Linked DNA regions of Homo sapiens: region 2 is linked to region 1. Evidence: fine-mapped expression QTL. A gene starts in region 1. The other region holds a variant in brackets. All regions are shown on one strand. Distances are from middle to middle.

Region 1 (11,857 bases):
TCACCATGTTGCCCAGGCTGGTCTCGAACTCTAGACCTCAGGTGATACACCCACCTCGGCCTCCCAAAGTGCTGGGATTACAGGCATGAGCCACCGTGCCCAGCTGGGGCAGATTTTAAAGTGGACTCTCCTTGTGCACAGGTTCACATTGTAAGGAGGTTCTCCAGAGGACTTCTCTTCCGCCCCCACCCCAGGCCCATCTGGTTGCCATTCCCTTGATAAGGGCGGTGCCACTTCGGATCACTTTGAGCTCTGCCCCTTCTTGCCTCTAAGGCCAGATTCCTCACTCCCTGATATGCTGCTCTTTGGGGAAGGATTCTTTTTAAAACAATCCCAGGCTGATATTCTTGTCACATCTGCACTTCAGGCTTTATGTACCTTTAGAGAAAACACAGTTACTTTCCTGATGCAAAGCGTCTATTGCTTGCTCAGGTGTGAGTCTATAAACTCTTCAAGCTCCTAGAGTGGGTCTTAAGAAGCTCCTCTCACTGGGCTTGAAGTTAGTGGGCAAGCACCTCCCTCTACACCTTCTTCCTGATAGTGGAGAGTGGGGAAGTGGGGATCAAGAAAGATAGCTTTTTAGCTCAATGTGCCATGAAGCCAAGAAGGTAAGGAAAGAGATTAAGAAATGTTGAGGCTAGATTGTTATTATATAGATGCAGGCGTCTTCTGGGATTCTGCTATGGCTTGGGATAAAAGGGAAGACAGTGATCCAGGTGTGATACCCTGATGGGTTCTTCCTGCCTGCTGCACAGCCATAATCAATTCACTGAGACTGAGGCATTGCAGTAAAACAAGAGTTTAATTGATGCAAGGTCAGCCACACCAGAGATGAGGTTATTACTTGACCCAGTCTCCCTGAAGGCTCAGAGTCTAGGGTTTTTATGGACAATTTGGTGGGCAGGGGGCTAAGGAACAGGTGCTGCTGATTGGTTGGGGATGAAATCACAGGGGCTGGAAAATGGTCCTCATGCACTGAGTTCTCCTCTAGGTGGAACCACAGGACAGGCTGAGTCATAAGTCATGAATTTGAGTGGGGTCAGTCTGAAAAACATCTCAAAGGGCCAATCTTAGGTTCTACAGTGATGATGTTATCTATAGGAGCAATTGAGAAAGCACAAATCTTGTGATCTCTGGCCACACGACTCCTGAACAGTAAGGGATTATAGAACATATGCCCACATTTTAGCAGAACTCAGACTCCTTCCATAATCCTAATCTTGGGCCTTTCACTAGTCTCATGAAGGTGGTTTCAGCCCCGAAACAAGCAGGAAGGGGGTAGTTTTAGGGTAGGACTATTATCCTTGCTTCAAAGTTAAGCTATAAACCAAATTCCTCCATGGTTAGTTTGGCCTATACCTAAGAACAACCAAGGACAGCTTGGAGGTCAGAAGCAAGATGGAGTCAACTACATCAGATATCTCTTACTGTGATAATCTTTGCAAAGTGGTTTCACAGGTCCCTTTTCCTGTTACTCTATTAAAGCTGCTCCTATGAAGATCACCAATAAGTTCCATAGTGTCATGTCCAATATAGACAATTCTCATTTCTTATTTTACCCATCAGAAAATTTTGACATAACTTATCACTTCTTCATTCATGCAACAGTAGGGACCAAGAGAAACTTCCCCTTCAGCCACTGAAAGTTTGCTAAAAAAATCAACCCACAAAAGGCAGATTGATTGGAGACAAGGCAAATTGTATAAATGTGTACACAGGGAGAATCACAGGGTGATTACACAACCTCCAACAGGGTTAAGAAGCTTATATACCACCCTGGCAAAATAGGCTATGGGAGGGAGTAGAAGAGGAATTCTATTGAGGGGATTACTAGGGAGAATGAATGGATCAGGGAACAGAGATGAACATGAACATTACCCTGTCAAAGGGTGTGTTCAAGCATGGTTACATTCTTGGTTTTTCAGGGAGGAGAAGAGACAGTTGTTTCTTTTAATGGGTCTGGATCTTAGGTTAAAAAAAAACGTTAACTTCATCTTTGGAAGACTCAGTTGGCAGGGGGTGGTGCCAGCGAGACCTTGAGGCTTCTTCAGTTTAACATGTCAAAACATATTTTGGGGTAGCAGTTTCTGAACCCCAACTAAATAACTTTCTTTACTTGGCTTCTAGGATTCCACCCTCTGATTCTATTTCTTTCTTTGTCACTCCTCATACTCTTCTGCTGGATCTATCTCATCTTCTTAACAATTCAATATGAGAGGATCTAGAGCTCAATTGTATGATGACTTTTTCTCTGACTCACTTCTTGGGAGACTTTTTTTTTTTTTTGAGATGGAGTTTTGCTTTCCCCCAGGCTGGAGTGAAGTGGGGCAATCTTGGCCCACTGCAACCTCTGCCCCCCGGGTTCAAGCGATTCTCCTGCCTCAGCCTCCCGAGTAGCCAGGATTATAGGCGCCTGCCACCATACCCCAATAATTTTTATATTTTTAGTAGAGACGGGGTTTCGCCACGTTAGCCAGGCTGGTTTCAAACTCCAGACCTCAGGTGATCCACCAGCCTCGGACTCCCAAAGTGCTAGGATTACAGGGGTGAACCACTGTGCTCGGCCTTCTTGGGAGATCTCTTCCAATCTTGTGGCTTTAAATATTCTATACAGTCTCAAATGTAACTATCTATCTCCAACACCTTCCCTGAATTCCAGGCTGCTTACTTGACATCTACACTCAGATATCTGTCTAGGACATCTCTCGAAGTTAACATTCAAAACCAAATGCCATGCCATAGTTTTTGTTGTTCTTGTTTTTGTTGTTGTTCTTGTTGTTGTTGTTGAGACGGGAGTTTCACTCTTGTTGCCCAGGCTGGAGTGCAATAGTGCGATCTTGGCTCACCGCACCCTCCACCTCCGGGTTCAAGTGATTCTCCTGCCTCGGCCCCCTCAGTAGCTGGGATTACAGACATGCACCGCCACAGCCAGCTAATTTCGTATTTTTAGTAGAGATGGGGTTTCTCCACGTTGGTCAGGCTGGTCTCGATCTCCCAACCTCAGGTGATCCGCACACCTTGGCTTCCCAAAGTGCTGGGATTACAGGTTTGAGCCACAGTTTTCAATTAAAAACTTCTCCTTTCTGGCCAGGCATGGTGGCTCACGCCTGTAATCCCAGCACTTTGGGAGGCCAATGCGGGTGGATCACAAGGTCAGGAGATCGAGACCATCCTGGCTAACACGGTGAAACCCCATCTCTGCTAAAAATACAAAAAATTAGCTGGGCGTGGTGTCAGGCGCCTGTAGTCCCAGCTACTTGGGAGGCTGAGGCAGGAGAATGGCGTGAACCCGGGAGGCGGAGCTTGCAGTGAGCAGAGATCACACCACTGCACTCCAGTCTGGGCGACAGAGCGAGACTTCGTCACAAAAAACAAAACAAACAAAAAAAAAACTGCTCCTTTCCAAAATTCCCTATCTCAGTAAATAGCACCAGCAAGGCCCTGCTGTTCGGGATACACATTTTGGAGCAACATCTATGCCTCTCTTTCTCTTATATCCCATCTGCAAATGTTGTCAACTCAGCCTTCAATATATGGTACCAAGCCCAACTCATCTTCCCCTCTCCACCATCCCCACCTTAGCCCAAACCATCATCACCATCTCTCTGCTTCCAATTGCCTCTCTGTAGTCTCTTTCCCACACAGCAAGAGTGACCCATTTAAACATAAATCAGATTGTTACCTCTGCTCATTACCTCTCTGCTCGAAGTCCTCCAATGGTTCCCACCCTTCTCAGAAAAATCTTTGCCACGAATTACGAGGCTGTACGTCTGGACAGGTTCCAGAGTTTTCCTTAGACTTTGCAAAAGTTATCTTAGAGCTGTCTCATTGTGCTGGGTGCAAATTTTGTTTTAAAGAGAAAGTTATCACATATTTTCTCAAAGAAGCATCTCTGAAGGCATGTAATATGTTTGAAATACTTATCTCATCATTAAAGCTTTAGTAAAATGAAAAATCTACCAGCCATGTTCTCTATACTCAGCGATTTTCCAGACTTCAACGCCCTGGAAGCAATGATTAAAGTTTTTCTTTGCCTTCAATTATCTGAAGGGTTGGGCTGCCCCTCCACACCTGTGGGCATTTCTCATCAGGTAGAATGAGAGACTTGGAAAAGAAAGAGACACACAGACAAAGTATAGAGAAAGAAAAATGGGCCCGGGGGACTGGCGCTCAGCATACAGAGGACCCGCGCCGGCACCGGCCTCTGAGTTCCCCTAGTATTTATTGATCATTATCAGGTGTTTCCTGGAGAGGGGGATGTGGCAGGACAATAGGATGATAGTGGAGAGAAGGTCAGCAGGTAAACACGTGAACAAATGTCTCTGCATCATAAACAAGGTAAAGAAAAAAGTGCTGTGCTTTTGATGTGCATATACATAAACATCTCAATGCCTTAAAGAGCAGTATTGCTGCCAGCATGTCCCACCTCCAGCCCTACGGCGGTTTTCCCCTATCTCAGTAGATGGAATATACAATCGGGCTTTACACTGAGACATTCCATTGCCCAGGGACAAGCAGGAGACAGATGCCTTACTCTTATCTCAAATGCAAAGAGGCGTTCCTTCCTCTTTCACTAATCCTCCTCAGCACAGACCCTTTACGGGTGTCGGGCTGGGGGACGGTCAGGTCTTTCCCCTCCCACGAGGCCATATTTCAGACTATCACATGGGGAGAAACCTTGGACAATACCTGGCTTTCCCAGGCAGAGGTCCCTGCGACCTTCTGCAGTGTTTTGTGTCTCTGGGTACTTGAGATTAGGGAGTGGTGATGACTCTTAACAAGCATGCTGCCTTCGAGCATTTGTTTAACAAAGCACATCCTGCACAGCCCTTAATCATTTAACTCTGAGGTGACATAGCACATGTTTCAGGGAGCACAGGGTTGGGGGTAGGGTTACAGATTAACAGCATCTCAAGGCAGAAGAATTGTTCTTAGTACAGAACAAAATGGAGTCTCTTATGTCTACTTCTTTCTACACAGACACAGTAACAATCTGATCTCTCTTTCTTTTCCCCACATTATCAAGTCAAACATCCTCTCTTCTGTGAAGGCTTCTCTTTGTGCACTGCCCTCCTACTCCATCCCCAGTCCCAGTACCCTGCAGAATAAAATGTTTCTATCTCTGTCTCCTTAGCTTTGTGTCCATACATAGATATTGAAAGGAAGTCTGTGGAACTTGTGTCTGCCTTGTATTACTACTGTGGAAGGGACAATAAATTTATTAACTCATATTTTTAAAATATGCATACATACTGTATTTAACCTAAGACTTTTTTCATATTTTAAAGACTGGAATTGAGATATGTCTTTCAATCTACATGTTTAGAAAGCATAACTTATCAGTTTTTTTTTCTTTCTTGGTGGTACATAAAATAATGGTACCTTAAAATTGATGCTATCTTACATTTTATTAAATATGGAATAGAAATCTTATGTGTCTGTGCTCCTCATTCTTTATAGCAAAAGTTTAATACATGACATCATTCCATATGACAGTTGATTATTTTTGCCACTACTGGGGCTCAAACCATAATACCCCAAAATATGATGTTTTGGCATGCTGAGTCTTTGGGGTTTGTTTGTTTTGAGATGGGAGTCTCACTCTGTCGTACAGGCTGGAATGCAGTACAGGCTGGAATGCAATGGCATGATCTGGGCTCGCTGCAACCTCCACCTCCTGGATTCCAGCAATTCTTATGCCTCAGCCTTACAAGTAGCTGGGATTACAGGCACCTGCAACCACACCCGGCTAATTTTTGTATTTTTAGTAGAGACGGGTTTTGCCATGTTGGCCAGGCTGGTCCTGAACTCCTAACCTCAAGTGGTCCACAACATTGGCCTCCCAAAGTGCTTGGCTCCCAAAGTGCTGGATTACAGGCATGAGGCACCACGCCCGGTGGCATGTTGAGTCTTTGAATTAAAGGAAATTAAAAGGGTCTCAGAAAGAAGCCTAAAAATCAAGGCCTCTCTCTCTCACCTTCCCCCTTCCTTTTGTCTCTCTGATACTCTTACTTTTTCCAAGCACCTGAAGGGGCTCTCTTTTCCTGCACAGCCAGATAAGGAATTTCCTTATCTGACAGAGAAAACTCTTTTCCAAAGAAATGCAATTGTCTTAAAACCCGTTCCTTAGGAATCGCATTAAATAATCAGAAGAGATTAATCACCCAGAGAAGAGACAAAAACTGAAAGTCATAGCCACACTGAGACTTTTCATAGATACTTCTGAGGGTAGCTCCAAGAGATTACCTGGGAAACTTTACCTGTATAATAGGACAATTTTTGTTCAGAGTGAAGTTTCACAGCTTGTCCACAAGCGATTGTTTGTACTTCTGTCCCACTGAATGTCCAAGGAGAATCATTTGCAAACCACTGTCTGGCTTTCGGGCCCATTCATACCTATCTCCCTCTACTCAACAAAGAAGGGTATACAAGCATCTGGACCTTAATTGAGTTATTGAGTAATCACTCTTCTGTGATTTTTCCCTATGCACGTTAAGCAAATTTTGTATGCCTTTTTCTCCTGCTAATCTGTCTACTTAGTTCATTCCAGCAACTTTCAGAGGGCAAAAGTAGGAGCTTTCCCTCTTGCTCCCTACACCACGTTAAATTTAAATATAAATTAAATGATGTGGGAATGGGTAACCTGCTCATTTCCAAACTGCAATTTTCATAGGTATGAAAATTCTCCACAAACTACAAAACCATGACACTCCAAGCGCCCAAGAACCTAGGTTGGACAGCTCACTTAGTGCAGGTAAACGTGCTCCACCCATCTCCCAGCCCGCCTGCCCCCTCACTTAGGTACAGGTGCAGGTACAGGTAGGCAAGCAAACGTCTATTGGCTGTGGACTTAACAGGCTCGCCCACAGGTACCTTCCGAGCATGCGTGGGGAAGTAGCACGCAGGCGCGGCACGCCCCGCGCATGCCTGGTGCACAGAGTCTGCAGGTCGGGCGGTAGCGACAGGTCAGAGCTGCGGCCTGAGCAGCCAGCGTCCGGCATGAAGGTCTGGGGTCTGGCTGCTGCCTGCTTCTTGCTCCAGCACCATGGAATGCCTGCGCAGTTTACCCTGCCTCCTGCCCCGCGCGATGAGACTTCCCCGGCGGACGCTGTGTGCCCTGGCCTTGGACGTGACCTCTGTGGGTCCTCCCGTTGCTGCCTGCGGCCGCCGAGCCAACCTGATTGGAAGGAGCCGAGCGGCGCAGCTTTGCGGGCCCGACCGGCTCCGCGTGGCAGGTACTGCCCTTCCCCGGCAACAGCCTTGGGACGCTGGTCTTGCAGTGACCTTAGACTGCTGCCCCAGCCGTCCGGCGCGGCGCGCCTGTTGCTCCGCGCCCTCCGCAGGCCTCGGCCTCCCGCGTGTCCTGTGAGCTTGCACAGGCCCGCGGGCCGAGCTGCGTCCCACTCGCTCAGAATGCGACCTTGCTATGTGCGCTGTGCCCTGCCGGGGTCCCAGCGGCCAACCCTCTGCCTTCTCCTCCACCGCCCTTGCTGCAGATTATGTAACCATAGGAACAACCTAGGAATCGTTTACAGACCGTGATCACGTTAGTTAACACCCGCTTAAGTGCTCTTGTAAGAGGTTTTTTCTGTGTTGTTTTTGAGACAGGGTCTTACTATGTTGCCCAGGCTGGACTCAAACTCCTTGCCTCGAGCCATCCTAACGCATTAGCCTCGCAAAGCGCTGGGATTACAGGCGTGAGCCACCACACCTGGCCGAGAGGTGTTTTTAAACAAGGATTTCATCTGTTCGGAAGTCATAAGTATAAATTAATACTTCCCTGTTTTCTGTTTCTTCGTTATGGACACATTTATACAGTTGTCCAGTTGCACGGAGATTGGGGACGCACCTAGAAGTGAGGCTAAAGACTGAGTTGTTTCTGAGAACGACTTACTTTCAACTACAGTACTCTATAAGTAAACAGCCAGGGAGATCGGATTGAGAAAAAAAAATCTTATTTGCTGTTTATTTTTTCACCAAATGTTGAAGCATGGTGAAAAGTTAAGATTTTCACAAATGTGAGTGCAAATATTTGAGGAATAAAAGGTATTGAAATGAATGACTTTATTAAGAACATAGCAGTGTCCTCAAATATGTTTTCTCAATTGTGCTCTCAAAAGCCTCCCAAAGTAACTCCTCGTCAGCACCTCATTCTCCACTTATTGGAGAGGCTAAGTTGGGTTACATGCTCTGCACCCTCAATTGATAATGCTTGGGAATCCAGTTTCAGCAAGTTGGAGGAAACTTTTAGGACAAGCATTGACGTTCACAATCTCAATCCCGGTTACACTCTAATTTGTGACATTAAAACATTGAAAGGCATTTGTAATCAGCAAATGCCTTTTACCTTTATTCATCTTACCCTTATAGTGATAATTTGTATTTTGTAAAAGGGAAATGAAACTTCAGATACTAACAAATTACAACAATCATTACGTGTATGTAGTAGAAAAAAGATCAGAAATAGGTTTTTTTTTCTACAGTCTCTGGAATCAGTGTAATTACTTTGGAAGCACAAAACAGTGTCCTCTGTCAGTCATTAAATGTACTTGATTATACTTCACCGCTCACTTCGACTCAGTCTAATCACGTTTTAAATAGACAATTTTAAAATAAAGATTTGTCATTTCAGCTCAGTGGGGGTATTTCATAAGTATTCACTATAAAGGATATCTGTAGAAAAGAAGTAAAATCATAGGTTTCATAATTTATGAGCCAGTCAACTGGAATGCTTGAAAGATCAGGTGGTACTTAGGACCTATGTTTTCTAAAATGTATCTACTACCAAATGTGCATGAAGAGTCTTTTAAATTATGCGAAAAGGAAGACCAGACATTTTCTTAAATCTCAGAACACGATGTTGCACATTTGTTCATCCAACTCTGAGATATCAGTAATAATTAGAAAGGTAAAAGGGTGATTGGAATCCATCAGTTATTTTAATGCCTCACCTAAGCCATTAGTTTTAAAAATCATTCCCTGCCAAACCTAAGATAGTCACTAACAGATGTTAAAATTAAGAAGAGTATTTCTTCTTTTCTTATAGGAAAAATATTTAAAAATAATAAAATAGTCTGAAGGCCTCCACATACTTTGAGAGTTGTATTTTAGCTCTATGTGAAAACCAATCATGTGACCACAGGAATTCTCTTAATTTATTCTTCAGGTGAAGTGCACCGGTTTAGAACCTCTGACGTCTCTCAAGCCACTTTAGCCAGTGTAGCCCCAGTATTTACTGTGGTGAGTATGTACAGTACATTGGAAATCGTACAGAAAGTGCTTCCCATACATAAGTTAACTCGTTGGACTGTTGGCCAAGATACTACTTATTTTGAGCTTTATAATCATCATAGCTACATGTCGTGGCTGTTGTGCCTGGCCAGTGACCTAAGTGCCTGCTAGATTTGCTTAACAATGATCTTGAACCTTTGCTAATGACTGCAGCTCCCCTTTTAATACTAGAACAGGTCAATCACAATTCAGAGCCATAAAGAGGCTTGAACCTATGTTCTGCAAGATAATACGCAGGCAGAAGCATTTTGAAGGCAGCAGAGAGTAGTATTTAAAAATGCATGCTTTGAAAGGTCATGATCTCTAACTTTTCTCTGAAATGGTTCGGGGGTGGGGATGAGGGGGGAAATGAATGAATAAGATAATGTATCACACGTATTTTTAGAGAAAGAAGGCTGTTGGGGCAAAATGTTAACAAAGGTGACTCTAGGTGAAAGCTCTATGGGAATTGGTTGTAATATTCTTGCAACTTCTTTGTAGGCTTTTTTTTTTTTTCCAAAAAAAAAAAAAGTCTTGATAAAAAGGTGTGCCGGCCGGGCGTGGTGGCTCACGCCTGTAATTCCAACACTTTGGGAGGCCGAGGTGGGCAGATCATGAGGTCAGGAGATTGAGACCATCCTGGCTAACACAGTGAAACCCCATCTCTACTAAAAATACAAAAAATTAGCCAGGCCTGGTGGTGGGCGCCTGTAGTCCCAGCTACTTGGGAGGCTGAGGCAGGAGAATGGCATGAACCCAGGAGGCGGAGCTTGCAGTGAGCCTGGATCATGCCACTGCACTCCAGCCTGGCAGACAGAGTGAGACTCCATCTCAAAAAAAAAAAAAAAAAGGTGTGCCTATTCTGAGCCAGACTTCCTAAATTCCAATCTCACTCTGCCTCTTATTGACTAGGTGGCCTTGGACAAGTTACAATAACATCTTTGTGCCTTAGTTTTCTCATCTGAAAACTGAGCATAACCTACCATATAGAATTGTTATGAGGATTAAATTAACTCATATATAGAAAGCCCTTAAACTAGTGCCTCACATATAGTAAGCCTCAAATATATTTCATTAGGATTATTTAGGCTTGTTAACATAAGAGCTTTTCTTTATAAACTATATAAAATTAAATAACCCCCAGAATTGCGTTTAAAAGTTACCACTGTTATTCATTGTTCTGGAAGAGTTGGCCAATTTAGTTAAGAATACAAAATCAGGGCCAGGCACGGTGGCTCACGCCTGTAATCCCAACACTTTGGGAGGCTGAGGTGGGCATATCATTTGAGGTCAGGAGTTTTAGACCAGCCTGACCAACATGGTGAAACCCCGTCTCTACTAAAAAACAAAAAAATTAGCCAGGCGTGGTGGTGCACGCCTGTAGTCCCAGCTACTCAGGAGGCTGAGGCAGGAGAATCGCTTGAACCTGGGAGGTGGAGGTTGCAGTGAGCCAAGATTGCACCACTGCACTCCAGCCTGGGCAACAGAGCAAGACTCTGTCTCAAAAAAAGAATACAAAGTCAAACGTGAAATACTGAAAGTTAGTTCTTTGCAGGTGAAATAATTGCAAAGAACACTTAAGAAATTCATAAAGCTATGGAATCTGAGAAAGAAAAATTTAATTTGTGCTGTTTGAAATAGTTTAGAAAGTGAGCTGGTTACAAAGTAAATATTTTTTTCTTTATAATTTGTATGATTTAAAAAATTTTTTTAAGTTCCATTAAAGAAAAAAAGGGTACATATAAATATTGAGATGCAAAAATATTCAGCATATGTTGCTAATTTGGAAGGAGGGAGACTGCAAAGCAGTATGTATAAGTATGTTTTATTAGGAAAATGTTTGGAAGGATATTCAGTGAAATATTGACATGGTTTTCTCTAAAATTTGTCATTTCAGGTGATTAATATAGTTTTATGTTACGTATATTTATTTTCAAATTTTCTGCAGTGGGTTTATGTATTTGTGAAATATAAGGCTGAAAGCTAGACTATTACACAAATATAAAGCTTTCTTTGATATAAATTTTCCTTTAATGTTCTATGGAACTTATATATTCATATTAATTTTATTTTTGCTGATGAGAAGCAAGATAAAATATATATATTGTGAGTTTTTATTGTGTGATTAACACAGCATGTATATTTCCATGGTAGTAACCCAAGACCTATATTGTACTTAAACCTGTATGTTGGAGTGTCTTTCTGAAATGTGTCTGTCGTAGTAAGTAGTACAGCTCAGCACATAGTGATTCATTAAATGTTTCACAGCTTCAAACTTGACTGTGGATAAACATCACTGAAAGATAGTCCCCTACTTTGCAGGAAATAGGTGCATTTTCTGTATCAAATCCTCTCTTCAAACTATCAGAAGGGGTTCTGTAAATCTTTATTGATTCTGCAACACCCACCAAAGAGACTTTGGCCTCATGTAGACATTTAGATTCACAAGGCGGGCCATACTTGGTCCCAGTCTACTCAGAAGGATAAGGGACAGGAGAAACAACAGGGTAGTGTTAGGTGTTTCCTCTTCAAAAGAAGTCTTTGCAGCCATCCAGGGGCTTCTCTGGTCCTCTGAGTGATCGCTCAG
Region 2 (11,857 bases), 55 kb after region 1:
AAATTAGCCAGGTGTGGTGGTGGGCACCTGTAATTCCAGCTACTCAGGAGGCTGAGGCAGGAGAATCGCTTGAACCTGGGAGGCAGAGGTTGCAGTGAGCCGAGATCATGCCACTGCACTCCAGCCTGGGCAACAGAAGTGAAACTCCATCTCAAAACAAACACACAAACAGAATAAATAAATAAATAAATAAAAATTCAGTTTTTCAGTTGCAATAGCCACATTTCAAATGTTCAAAGCCTGTGTTTTATGTCTCCCGCACTGGACAGCACAGCTACGGAACATTCCTATCAGTGCAGAAAGTCCTGTAGGACGGTGTAGATATTGTTCTAAGCACTTTAAATGGATTAAGGTAGGAACTGTTAGCATCCTCACTTTAACAGTGTACAGATGGAAAACTCAATCTCTTCAGACTTTTTTTTTCCAAAGTGGACTTTCTAGATCTTTCTTATCCTACCGTCTGGAATCAGCCTAAACCTGAAAGTAATTCACTGGGTTTTCCAATTCTTTCTCTTTTTTTTGTTTTTGTTTTTTGTTTTTGAGATGGAGTTTCGCTCTTGTTGCCCAGGCTAGAGTGCAATAGTGCTTGGCTCACCGCAACCTCCGCCTCCTGGGTTCAAGCGATTCTCCTGCCTCAGCCTCCCGAGTAGCTGGGATTACAGGCATATGCCACCACATCTGGCTAATTTTGTATTTTTAGTAGAGACGGGGTTTCACCACGTTGATCAGGCTGGTCTTGATCTCTTGACCTCAGGATCTGCCCGCCTTGGCCTCCCAAAGTGCTGGGATTATAGGCATGAGCCACCGCGCCCGGCCAGGTTCTCCAATTCTTTCACAACTTACATAACAACGAATGGCCTTTCACACAGTGGTGCTTGCCACATAACACACATGCTGAAGGACCCACGTCCATTATTTATTAGGTAATCTCTCCACACCCGTGTGCAGTGGCATCTATAAGTGCTGCCCCTTTCTGTAAGGCAGAAACTTGATAAACAAGATAAGGTTGCCTGGGGACACAAAACACGCTAGGGCAGGGTGGGAACCAATAACTCAGGGCTCTGCCAGCTGAGGACTGGTTCATTTTATCACTATCAGCTGCACCATCCGGCCCTCCTACGGGCCAGCCAGTCATTCCGAGAGGAGCACAGAACTTTAAAGCAGGCCAGGCCTTGAGTTTCCTATCATAAACCTTCATTGTATCAATGAGGACACAGAGATGCTCACTGCAGTCAGGGCCTGAGGGCAGGATTTCCATCCTTCGTCCATGCCTTTATCTTGCCATCTTTGAAATGATCAAAGGTCACTAGGGGAGGAGGGCATGGAGCCACTTCCTTTCTCACCCAAGTGGTCTTTGAGAGAGTTTAGCAGCCACAGGAAGCAGGTGCCTCTCTTTATTCCCTGTCTATATGTGCCCAAAGGTTTACACTTTACACAACAGTCTGTCGGGGAAAGGCTTTGTAGAGAAGTAAGAAGCAACAAGATTAGATAAATTTATTTTGGAAATTTTTCATGTGGTGTCAGAAGGCCCTGAAAAATGCTGTCCCTCTGGGACTGTGACCTTACACACTGACCAGTCACCTTATTTGTACATGTTGGATTCAGAGCTCCTTTCATCAGAGCCTAAACTAGATCATAAATCATTGTACTTCTTATTTTTGAAAGCGTGTTCATGGCTGGGCGTGGTGGCTCACACCTACAATCCCGGCACTTTGGGAGGCTGAGGCGGACGGACCACCTGAGGTCAAGAGTTCAAGACCAGCCTTACCAATATGGTGAAACCCCGTCTCTACTAAAAATACAAAAATTAGCCGGGCATGGCGGTGCATGCCTGTAGTCCTAGCTACTTGTGACCTTGAGATGGGAGAATAACTTAAACCCAGAAGGCAGAGGTTGCAGTGAGCCAAGATCATGCCACTGCACTCCAGTCTGGGCAACAGTGAGAGTTTATCTCAAAAAAAAAAAAAAAGCAAGCACGTTCAGGTGTGCCATCTTATTTTCTCTTCACAGGATTCACTTCACAGCGAAAGGGTAAGTGCCTTGCCTGGAACAAGAACCACGACGATCTGACTGGAAGTCTAGGGTTCTCCCCCTAGCACTTGACACTCAGAGAATGCAGTGCCAGGCCAGTATCACCAAAAGCCCCACACTCATTGGTGACTAGTAGCAGAGCTCTGTCTACCCCACCCCCCCACGCTCCTCCTTATTGCTGTTACAAAAACTAAAGCCTCTGATGTTAGAAAAACTTTCCAGGACCCTAGCGCTCTCGGGAGGAATTAATGCTTGGACTCCACGAGGAACGTTTGTAGTCACTGCGGGTTTTTTCAGGTGATGAATAACCACTTAGGACAAAAGAAGGAAATCTAAAGAAAGCCTGGCGTTTAGTTAATAGTGATGTACAGTGTTGTTTTTATTCTTAATTTTTGACAAGTATACCATAATTATGTAAGATGTTAACATAGGGGAAAATGAGTAAACAGTACATGGGAACTCTTTGTACTGTCTTTATACCTTTTCTGTGAATCTAAAATTCTGGACGGATGCAGTGGCTCACGCCTGTAATCCCAGCACTTTGGGAGGCCAAGGTGGGTGGATCACCTAAGGTCAGGAGTTTGAGACCAGACTGGCCAACATGGCAAAACTGCATCTCTACTAAAAATAAAAAAATTAGCCGGGCCTGGTGGTGTGCACCTGTAGTACCAGCTACTCAGGAGGCTGAGGCAGGAGAATTGCTTGAACCCGGGAGGCAGAGGTTGCAGTGAGCAGAGATTGCACCACTGCACTCCAGCCTGGGTGACAGAGCAAGAGACTCCATCTCAAATAAATAAATTAATTAATTAAAATAAAATACTTACAAAGTTTTATAAATACATACATTTCGTGTGTGTGTGTGTGTGTGTGTGTATAAAGAGGTTTTATATTATCAATTATATTATCAAGAAATCACATCCCAACTGGCCACTCAAAGCAGTTCTCAATAGCATGTGTGTTTTTGGAAGGTATTAGACTAATGATAGAATAAAATAAATGATGTAAACATGCTTCTAAAACTAAAAAGTGCTTCACAAATGTACACCACCAGCTGTTTGTTACTGTAATTATTCTTGTTATTAGTTACTCATCCTGGAGAATCTGCCACAAAATGCAAGAGTAGCTACTAACCACTAGAAGAGAAAGGATGAGATGGTGTCTCACCTGGAAGCCTTCAAGGATCCTGTGGGCCTCCTTGTCCAGGTCCAGGTCAACAGGTGGCAGGCCCAGGTCATTGCCGTAGATGAGGTACACGCGCCCGATGTGGATGTGGCCGGGGCGGCTGTAGCCTGGTGCGCCCACCACGAGGTCACCGTGCCCATCCTGGTTGAGGTCAGCTGAGGTCATTGCCCTTAGGGAAGTGAAGGGACCCACCATGGTATGCACTGAGCACTAGGGTTAAAGCTGTCGCCTGCTTCTTTCCTTTCTAGAGCCCAGTCCATTAACTTTCTCTCACTGACTTTTCCACCCTGCGTGACTGTTGTGAATATTCACTTCTCAGGTTGTATTGTTAGTGTGATTCAGTCTCATTCTTCAAGGGGAAAAATAAAATAAAAATGGACAAATCAAGGCCTCTAAGCATTTCTGGACTACATAACCTGAGAGGATGAAAAGTATACTCATGAAGCTTCTTGTCTTATACACAAAACCAGGGCTTGCCTGAGAGTAGAGAGGAAATTCATGTCCAGCCAAGCCCCTCTAGCCAATGGCGCAGGCCACTTTCTGATCTGCTCAATTCGTTTCAATGTGTTATCTGATCAAAGACGAGCTTGTGTGAAATAGACTATGTTTTTACCACAGCCACAAAGGCACCTGGCAGTGGGCCAAATCAAGAGTCCCACATGTTTAGTAGAGGCTCCTAGATGAGATTCCAAGAGCCACCAGTTACAGAGCTGGATAAACCGAGTCAAAGGTTCAAGTGTCACTACAGGGGCTGGAAAGACCAAAAGTCATTTGTTTATTCTAGTGCTTATCATCACATAAAGAACAAATGGCAGGCCGAGCATGGTGGCTCACGCCTGTAATCCCAGCACTTTGGGAGGCCAAGGCAGGTGGATCACCTGAGATCAGGAGTTCGATACCAGCCTGGCCAAGACAGTGAAATGCTGTCTCTACTAAAAATACAAAAATTAGCTGGGTATGGTGGCAGGCGCCTGTAATCCCAGCTACTTTGGAGGCTGAGGCAGGAGAATCACTTGAACCCGGGAGGCAGAGAACCCAGTGAGCCGAAATCAGAACAAACGGCAGAACAAAGGAAAAAGTCAAGAGCAGTTGTTTAAGGCTGTGATACCTGGTGGGAGGGACAGACACTCCAGTGGACCCATTGCTGTTCTCTGCACTTTGGAGGCTCAATGCTGGCCAGTAATGGCCCTAGGGATGCCCCTGTGGCTGGCTGTGCTTATGTAGCTGCCAGCCCAGCAGGAGGCCTTTCGGATCTTTCAGGGAGGTAGCCATACACACAAGTGAACGACCAGTAAAGACAGCATTCACCTCCCCATCTCCTGCACTAGAGCTGAATGCACAGAAGCCCTGAAAGGAAGGACTGTCAGGAAATTGTGCCAAGGAAATGCAATGCCCTTTGGAATTAAGGAGTATGATTTTTTTAAAAAGCCTTCATCCAAACTTCCAGAAAATAGTCACTTTTATATACTTGGGGTTAGTTTTGTATGTTGTTGTTGTTTTGTTTTATTTTTTTATTTATTTTGGGGGCTTAGTTTTGGTTGAATTTTAAAATCAGAGGAATTCCTAACATTCTCTTTATAAAACTGTCATGGTATACCAGCTTTTACCATATGAAGTTACAATATTTAAATCACTATAACAGCTATCTGCTTATATCCTTCTGATGTGACTAGATTACAAAAGAAATCTGTAAGAATTTATCTCCAAGAACATCAGAGCTTTACAAAAATTCCATGAAACAATCCTTTATTGTTGTGATTATTTAGTAAACCGAAAGTTCCTTGTATTTAAACATATTTGACCAAGTGTAAGGAGATCATTTCATTGTTACAATAACTTAACCATTAAATTAATGCTTTTGGCCAGGTGCAGTGGCTCATGCTTGTAATCCCAGCACTTTGGGGGGCTGAGGCAGGTGGATCGCTTGAGCCCAGGAGTTTGAGACCAGCCTGGGCAACATAGCAAGACCCCATCTCTAGTACAGAAAAAAAAATTTTTTTAATCAAATAAATTAATGCTTTTGTTGATGATGAATTCATTGACAAGCAAGGTGCTAACAAGCACCATTTAAAACAGTTGCAGAGGGCTGGGCACAGTGGCTCACACCTGCAATCCCAGGACTTTGGGAGGCCAAGGCGGGAAGATCACTTGAGCCCAGAAGTTCGAGATCAGCCTGGTCAACATGGTGAAACCTTGTCTCTACTAAAAATATAAAAATTAGCCAGGCATGGTGGCGCGCACCTGTAACCCCAGCTACTGGGAAGCTGAGGCAGAGAATCACTTGAACCTGGGAGGCAGAGGTTGCAGTGAGCCAAGATCAAGCCACTGTACTCCAGCCTGGGTGACAAGTGAGACTCTGTCTCAAAAATAAAATAAAATAAAATGAAATAAAAAACAGTTGCAGAATGATTGAATAAAATTAATACTGAAGAAAACATTCACAAGTTAGATAAACTTATACGTACCAGCCAAGCCTCGCATAAGGAAATGACAAGAAGTAAGATGCTAAGGGGCTGGAGACGTGCTTTTGTGACAACTGAGAGCCACCTATGAACATTGTCCTTATGTTCCTTTCCAAAGCCTTGTAGATAAAGGACATGGAATCCTGAAATAAAAGAATCATTATAGACAGTAAAGACACGTAGCATAATCAACAAAGCTACTGTTTCCTGTCCAAAGTATTGGACTTGTGTAAAGGAAATGAGTTTTTAGAAGTGCTAAACAATAAAATAAAACATTAGGTCCTATCAGCAAGTAAGATCACTTAGGACAGGCAATTAGGATAGTGAAATCATACCCCCAAATTATGCTGAGGGATGGCAGAGTTACAGCCCAAGAGGTTGGGACCAGCATGGGTAGAAAGAGTTATCGCTCTGTCACCAGGCTGGAGTGCAGTGGCACGATCTCAACTCACTGCAACCTCCGCCCCCTGGGTTCAAGCAATTCTCCTGCCTTAGCCTCCCTAGTAGCTGGGATTACAGGTGCTCGCCACCACACCCAGCTAATTTTTGTATTTTAGTAGAGATGGGGTCTCACCATGTTGGCCAGGCTGGTCTCGAATTCCTGACCTTAAGCAATCTACCTGCCTCGGCTCCCC[C/T]AAAGTGCTGGGATTACAGGCGTAAGCCACCATGCCCAGGGGACTAAAATTTTTTAAAAGACAAGTCTGTCCATGTGCAGTGGCTCACACCTGTAATCCTAGCACTTTAGGAGGCTGAGACAGGAGGATCACTTGAACCCAGGAGTTTGAGACCAGCCTGGGCAACATGGAGAAACCCCATCTCAACAAAAAATACAAAAAATTAGCCGAGTGTGGTGGAGCGTGCCTGTAATCCCTGCTACTTGGGAGGCTGAAATGGGAGGATCACCTGCATCCAAGAGGTTGAGGCTGCAATGAGCTGAGATCTCACCATTGCACTCCAGCCTGAGCAACAGAATGAGACTCTGTCTCAACAACAAGAAAAAGAACAAGTCCTTTCAATGCAGAACTTTAATTGTATTTGTATATGTGTATATATATTAACAAACAAATAAACTGGAACAACAGGATGCCAAAGATATCCTCCAGACCGGCCAGGCGTGGTGGCTCACGCCTATAATCCTAGCACTTTGGGAGGTCAAGGTGGGAGGATCACAAGGTCAGGAGTTCGAGACCAGCCTGGCCAATATAGTAAAACCCCGTCTCTACTAAAAATTAGCTGGGAGTGGTGGCGGGCACCTGTAGTCCCAGCTACTTGGGAGGCTGAGGCAGGAAAATCGCTTGAACCTGGGAGATGGAGGTTGCAGTGAGCTGAGATCGTGCCGCTGCACGCTAGCCTGGGTGACAGAGCAAGACTCCATCTCAAAAAAAAAAAACGATATCCTCCAAACCACACCCAAGCTGAGATGTGGTTGTATTTGCTGCCAGGCAGGCACGAGAGGTCACATGCAGAATGCTAGGAGCCGTACACCACAGAATTTGGGGGACAACAAGCCCCTCAGCTTGGGATGCTGAATCGTTCTTAATGTGGTTACTGCAGAGACAAAAAACACAAACGAGAGTGGCCCTGAACAAGCTGGCCAGATACTAGATCCATCCAAGTTAAGGGGACACAACTCTAAATCTGCCCAAGGGTGACATGAGACCAAACAAGATTTCCTAGGTCTGCTCCAAAGCAGAGCACAGTTGGCTCAGAGCATGAAGGCAGCCCAGATGGCTCAGGCGCTGCAAAAGCACAGGGTCTGAGGATCTTTCAGGCACGAGTATGCCTTCTGCTTTGCCCATTCTAATCTCACTGGCAGGCCATGCATAGATTGCTTCATCCTAAAGCCTAGCTCTGACTTGCTCATTCATCCAGGAAGCAATTAATCAGCTCCTACTATATGCCAGGTACCACAGCAGACACTGGGAACATAAAGTCCCTCCTTAGACAATTCATTTTTTTGCAAAGGAGAAAATCCAAATATGGCAAGACAAAATGACATGTGCTTTGATAGAGGTTCCCCTCCCCGGTCCGGACCAGCTACATAATTTAAGGAGGCCAGGGCAAAATTAAAACATGCAGCCTTTTGTTAAAAAAATTGTTAAAGCCGGGTGTGGTGGCTCACGCCTGTAATCCCAGCACTTTGGGAGGCCCAGGTGGGCGGATTACCTAAGGTCAGGAGTTCAAGACCAGCCTGGCCAACATGGTGAAACCCCATCTCTACTAAAAATACAAAAAGTAGCTGGGCATGGTGGCGGGTGCCTGTAATCCCAGCTACTCAGGAGGCTGAGGCAGGGAATTGCTTGAACCCGGGAGGCAGAGGTTACAGTGAGCTGAGGTGGTACCACTGCACTCTAGCTCAGGTGACAGAGCAAGACTCTGTCTCAAAAAAAAAAAAATTGTTAAGAATTTTAAGGCAGTGACAGCAGTATATTAAACCTAAACTAGGCCCTTCCGCAATTCTCAGAGACCCCATTCACAAAGTTGTCTAAACCCTTCTGACATTAAGAGCCCACTACAATCCAATGCCTACTTAGCTTCCTAAGCCTCTCATAGTAACTCATATTCCTTGTCCTGTGCTCCAGGCAAATACGACTACTCAGATTTCCCAACACCTGAAACTTTCCCAACCCACTAACAGAAATGTACTCTCACTGATGAAATACTATCTACTGTCCAAGACCTAACTTGAATGTCCCCTCCTCCAGGAAGCCTTCTCTGTCTGATAGCCTCCAAGGTGAAGCTTTTCTCCCTGCTATTTTTTTTTTGTTTTGTTTTTTGAGACAGGGTGTCACTCTAGCACCCAGGCTGGAGTGCAGTGGTGCAACCTCAGCTCACTGCAACCTCTGCCTTCCAGGAACAAGTAGTCCTCCCACCTCAGCCTCCCGAATAGCTGGGACTACAAGTGCACACTACCATGCCCAGCTGATTTTTTGTTACTTTTTTGTAGAGACAGGGTCTCATTATGTTACCCAGGCTAGTCTCAAACTCCTGAGCTCAAGCAATCCACCTGCCTCAGCCACTTAAAGTGCTGGGATTACAGGCGTGAGCCACCACGCCCATTCTCCCTACTATCTAATGATGCACTTACCGCACCATGGTATGTGTTGCAGTCTACTCACATAATGGTTATTTTTGTATTTGTCACTCCTTTCAGACTGAAATTTTTTAAGGGTCAGAGTTCATTTGTCTTTCATTTTATATCCCCCAGTAGAGTGTCTTCACTTAACAGCTAACTTCATTGATTAATTTCATACACAATGGGGCTATGCACAGTGAGCCTTCAACATTGTGAACGCCTTTGGGACTAAGTCCAAAGAAGGATTGGCCTGGGTGCCCAGGGTCATCTTGACTTGACAGAGACCACTGAGGTGCAGACTCAGGGCATCTCCAGAACAAACCACATATGGATGCCAAGAGTATTTGCCGGCCTGGCACATGCTTAGACCCAGGCTGGAGTGCACTGGCATGATCATAGCTCACTGTAGCCTTGAACTCCTGGGCTCAAGCAATCCTCCTGCCTTAGCCTCCCAAGTAGCTGTGACAACAGGCACAGCCATCACACCCAGCTAATTTATTTATTTTTTATAGAGACAAGGTCTTGCTATGTTGCCCAGACAGGTCTCAAACTCCTGGACTCAAGGGATCCTCTCAACTCAGCCTCCCAGCCACCACATCCCACCACAGGTAAATTTCAATGGACAAATAAATACCCAGGGACTCAGCGAAACAAGGTATCTCAAGAAGCAGCATTCCTCTTTCTCAACTTAGAGCAGAAAATTCTTACCGGGGTCCAGGAATTTACACTAAAGAACACTCCTCTTTCAGTATAGTTTATATTCCTGTCAACACTTTCAGTTAGGGATGTAGTCAAATTTCTGTGAAAATCATTTTTCTGCATTTTTGAGCTGTTGAAGAGAAAGAGGAATAAACTGGTTACGACTGAGAAAACAACCCCCTGTAAAACTGAGTTGAAGAATATAGTCAAGTTAATCACAGGTTAAAAGACCACAAAATTTTAACGTCAGAAGGCTGAAGGAGCAACACAGAAAGTTTTAGAAAACCTTCATTTCACAAAATCTTTTAGTAAACACATTTCTAAGGCTTAAAAGCCTATCCTTATAAAACATATTTCCTATAATATCAGAGCTCTATGGTAGGAGTAAAAGGCTTCAATTCTTTCCAGATTATGAAAAAATTTAGCAACAGGTATCAGCTGGTGGGGAAACTGCTTTGCAAGCATACTGATTTTTTTTTTTTTTTTTTGAGACGGAGTCTTGCTCTGTCACCTAGGCTGCAGTGCAGTGGCACGATCTCGGCTCATTGCAACCTTCGCCTCCTGGGTTCAAGCAATTCTCCTGTCTCAGCCTCCTGAGTAGCCTGGAACTACAGGCATGCACCACCACACCCAGCTGATTTTTTTGTATTTTTAGTAGAGATGGAGTTTCACTATGTTGGCCAGGCTGGGCTCGAACTCCTGAGCTCAGGTGATCCACCTGCCTCGGTCTCCCAAAGTGCTGGAATTACAGGTGTGAGCCATCACGCCCAGCCAGCATACTGATTTATCTTCAAAGACATGCTAAAATTAATTATACAATAAAAATACATTTTCACATTCAAAGATGTCAACCAGCCAAAAAGCAGATGACTCAGGGAGCCAGAGAGGCTTCAGAAATGACTGAAGTAGGGAGTGGACAACAGCCGTAAGTGACGGGGCCCTGGGCATGACACCAACTAGTGTCAGGGTTCTGGCAACCCCAAGAAAGATTGCAAGCCTAATCAAAAGGTGCTCAATGTGATTAAACAACAACAAAGTATGTTGAAGGAATGGTTTGCTAGGAAAAAAAGAAAAAGAAAAAAAAAAGTTACCCAATTCAAATACAACAATGACGACTTCACTGAACACTTTCTGTGTAATTTTCATTCTTCCAAAGTGCTAAGATCATTCCTCTCAGTACCTTTATCATTGCAATACTCTACTTTTGAGTATATCTCACTCTTGATCATCCTTAAATATCCCGGTTAAGCCATCACTTCTTCAAGGAGAGCTCTTTTGTGCCCAGGGCCAGGACGCTCTGTTGCAAATCCCCAGAACACCCTGCATTTTTAATTCCTGACACTTAAATATCTGTTAAGCCATCACTTCTTCAAGGAGAACCCTCCTGTGCCCAGGCCAGGACGCTTGCAAATCCCCAGAGCACCTTGCATTTTTTCTTCCTAACACTTAACAATGTCCACAATTACTTGTTTAGTGCCCAGCTACCTGCCAGGCCATATACCTGAGAGCAGGAACTGTTTCTGTCTTGTTCACAATGATATCTCTAGTGCCTGAACCAGTTCCTGGCACGTACTGATTAATAAATGATATTTTATTATTTGTGTTATTTTGTTCTATTTTATTAATAAATATACACATATTTGTAATATTAATAACTTATTAAATGAATGCATAAATGACTGTCGGTTGGTACCTGACTCCAGCAGAAAATATCATTTCTTAAAATACAAACCAGGCTTCTGGCCCTTAACATTGAGGGCTTCTCCCAACACTGTCTCATCAATAAATAAATTTTCATGTAAAATCTGGGTGAAGTTTATGAGTAAGACAATAATATTGATAGTTACAATAATACTAACTACATTTCTTCTTTCTTTTTTTGAGACAGGATCTCACTCTGTTGCCTAGACTGGAGTGTACTGGCCTGATCTCAGCTCACTGCAGCCTCGAACTCCTAGGCTCAAGCAATCCTCCCGCCTCAGCCTCCCAAGTAGCTGGGACTACAGGCACACACCACCATACCTGGCTAATTTTGTTCATTTTTTGTAGATATAGGGGTCTCACTATGTTGCTGAGGCTGGTCCTGAACTCCTGGACTTAAGGGATCCTCCTGCCTCAGCCTCCCAGAGTGCTAGGATTACACGTATGAGCCACTGTGCCCAGCCACTAACTACCGTTTAATGAGCAACTCAACATGTGCTAATTGCTTTACATCCACCACTGCATGTCATCCACACCATAATTCTGGGAGTGTTGATGTGCTTTTTCCATTTTGCAAAAGGAGGAAGCTATAGCTCCAAAAATCAAGCAGCTTGTTTAAAAATCACACAGCTGCAAGTGACAAATCTGGAATTTGAACCTACAGCTGTCTCTCAACAGATCCCGTGTTCTCAACCTCTATAGGGCA

What was found.
Region 2: its variant is fine-mapped to the expression of MRS2 in whole blood (TOPMed, PIP 0.94).

What each region holds. Positions count from the first base shown.
Region 1 is chr6:24,396,002-24,407,858 of GRCh38, forward strand. It overlaps MRS2 (magnesium transporter MRS2), which reads left to right and starts at 6,935. Exons shown (of 11, transcript NM_020662.4): 1 at 6,935-7,235; 2 at 9,167-9,240. The coding sequence starts at 7,046. RefSeq lists enhancers at 3,892-4,627, 4,628-5,363, 7,572-8,306 and silencers at 4,340-4,634, 5,520-5,814.
Region 2 is chr6:24,450,820-24,462,676 of GRCh38, forward strand. It overlaps GPLD1 (glycosylphosphatidylinositol specific phospholipase D1), which reads right to left. Exons shown (of 25, transcript NM_001503.4): 12 at 9,460-9,580; 13 at 5,679-5,818; 14 at 3,196-3,382. Among named protein-coding and RNA genes, the nearest start is that of GPLD1, 33 kb to the right of the region's middle. The variant C/T (reference allele first, on the strand shown) is at 6,311.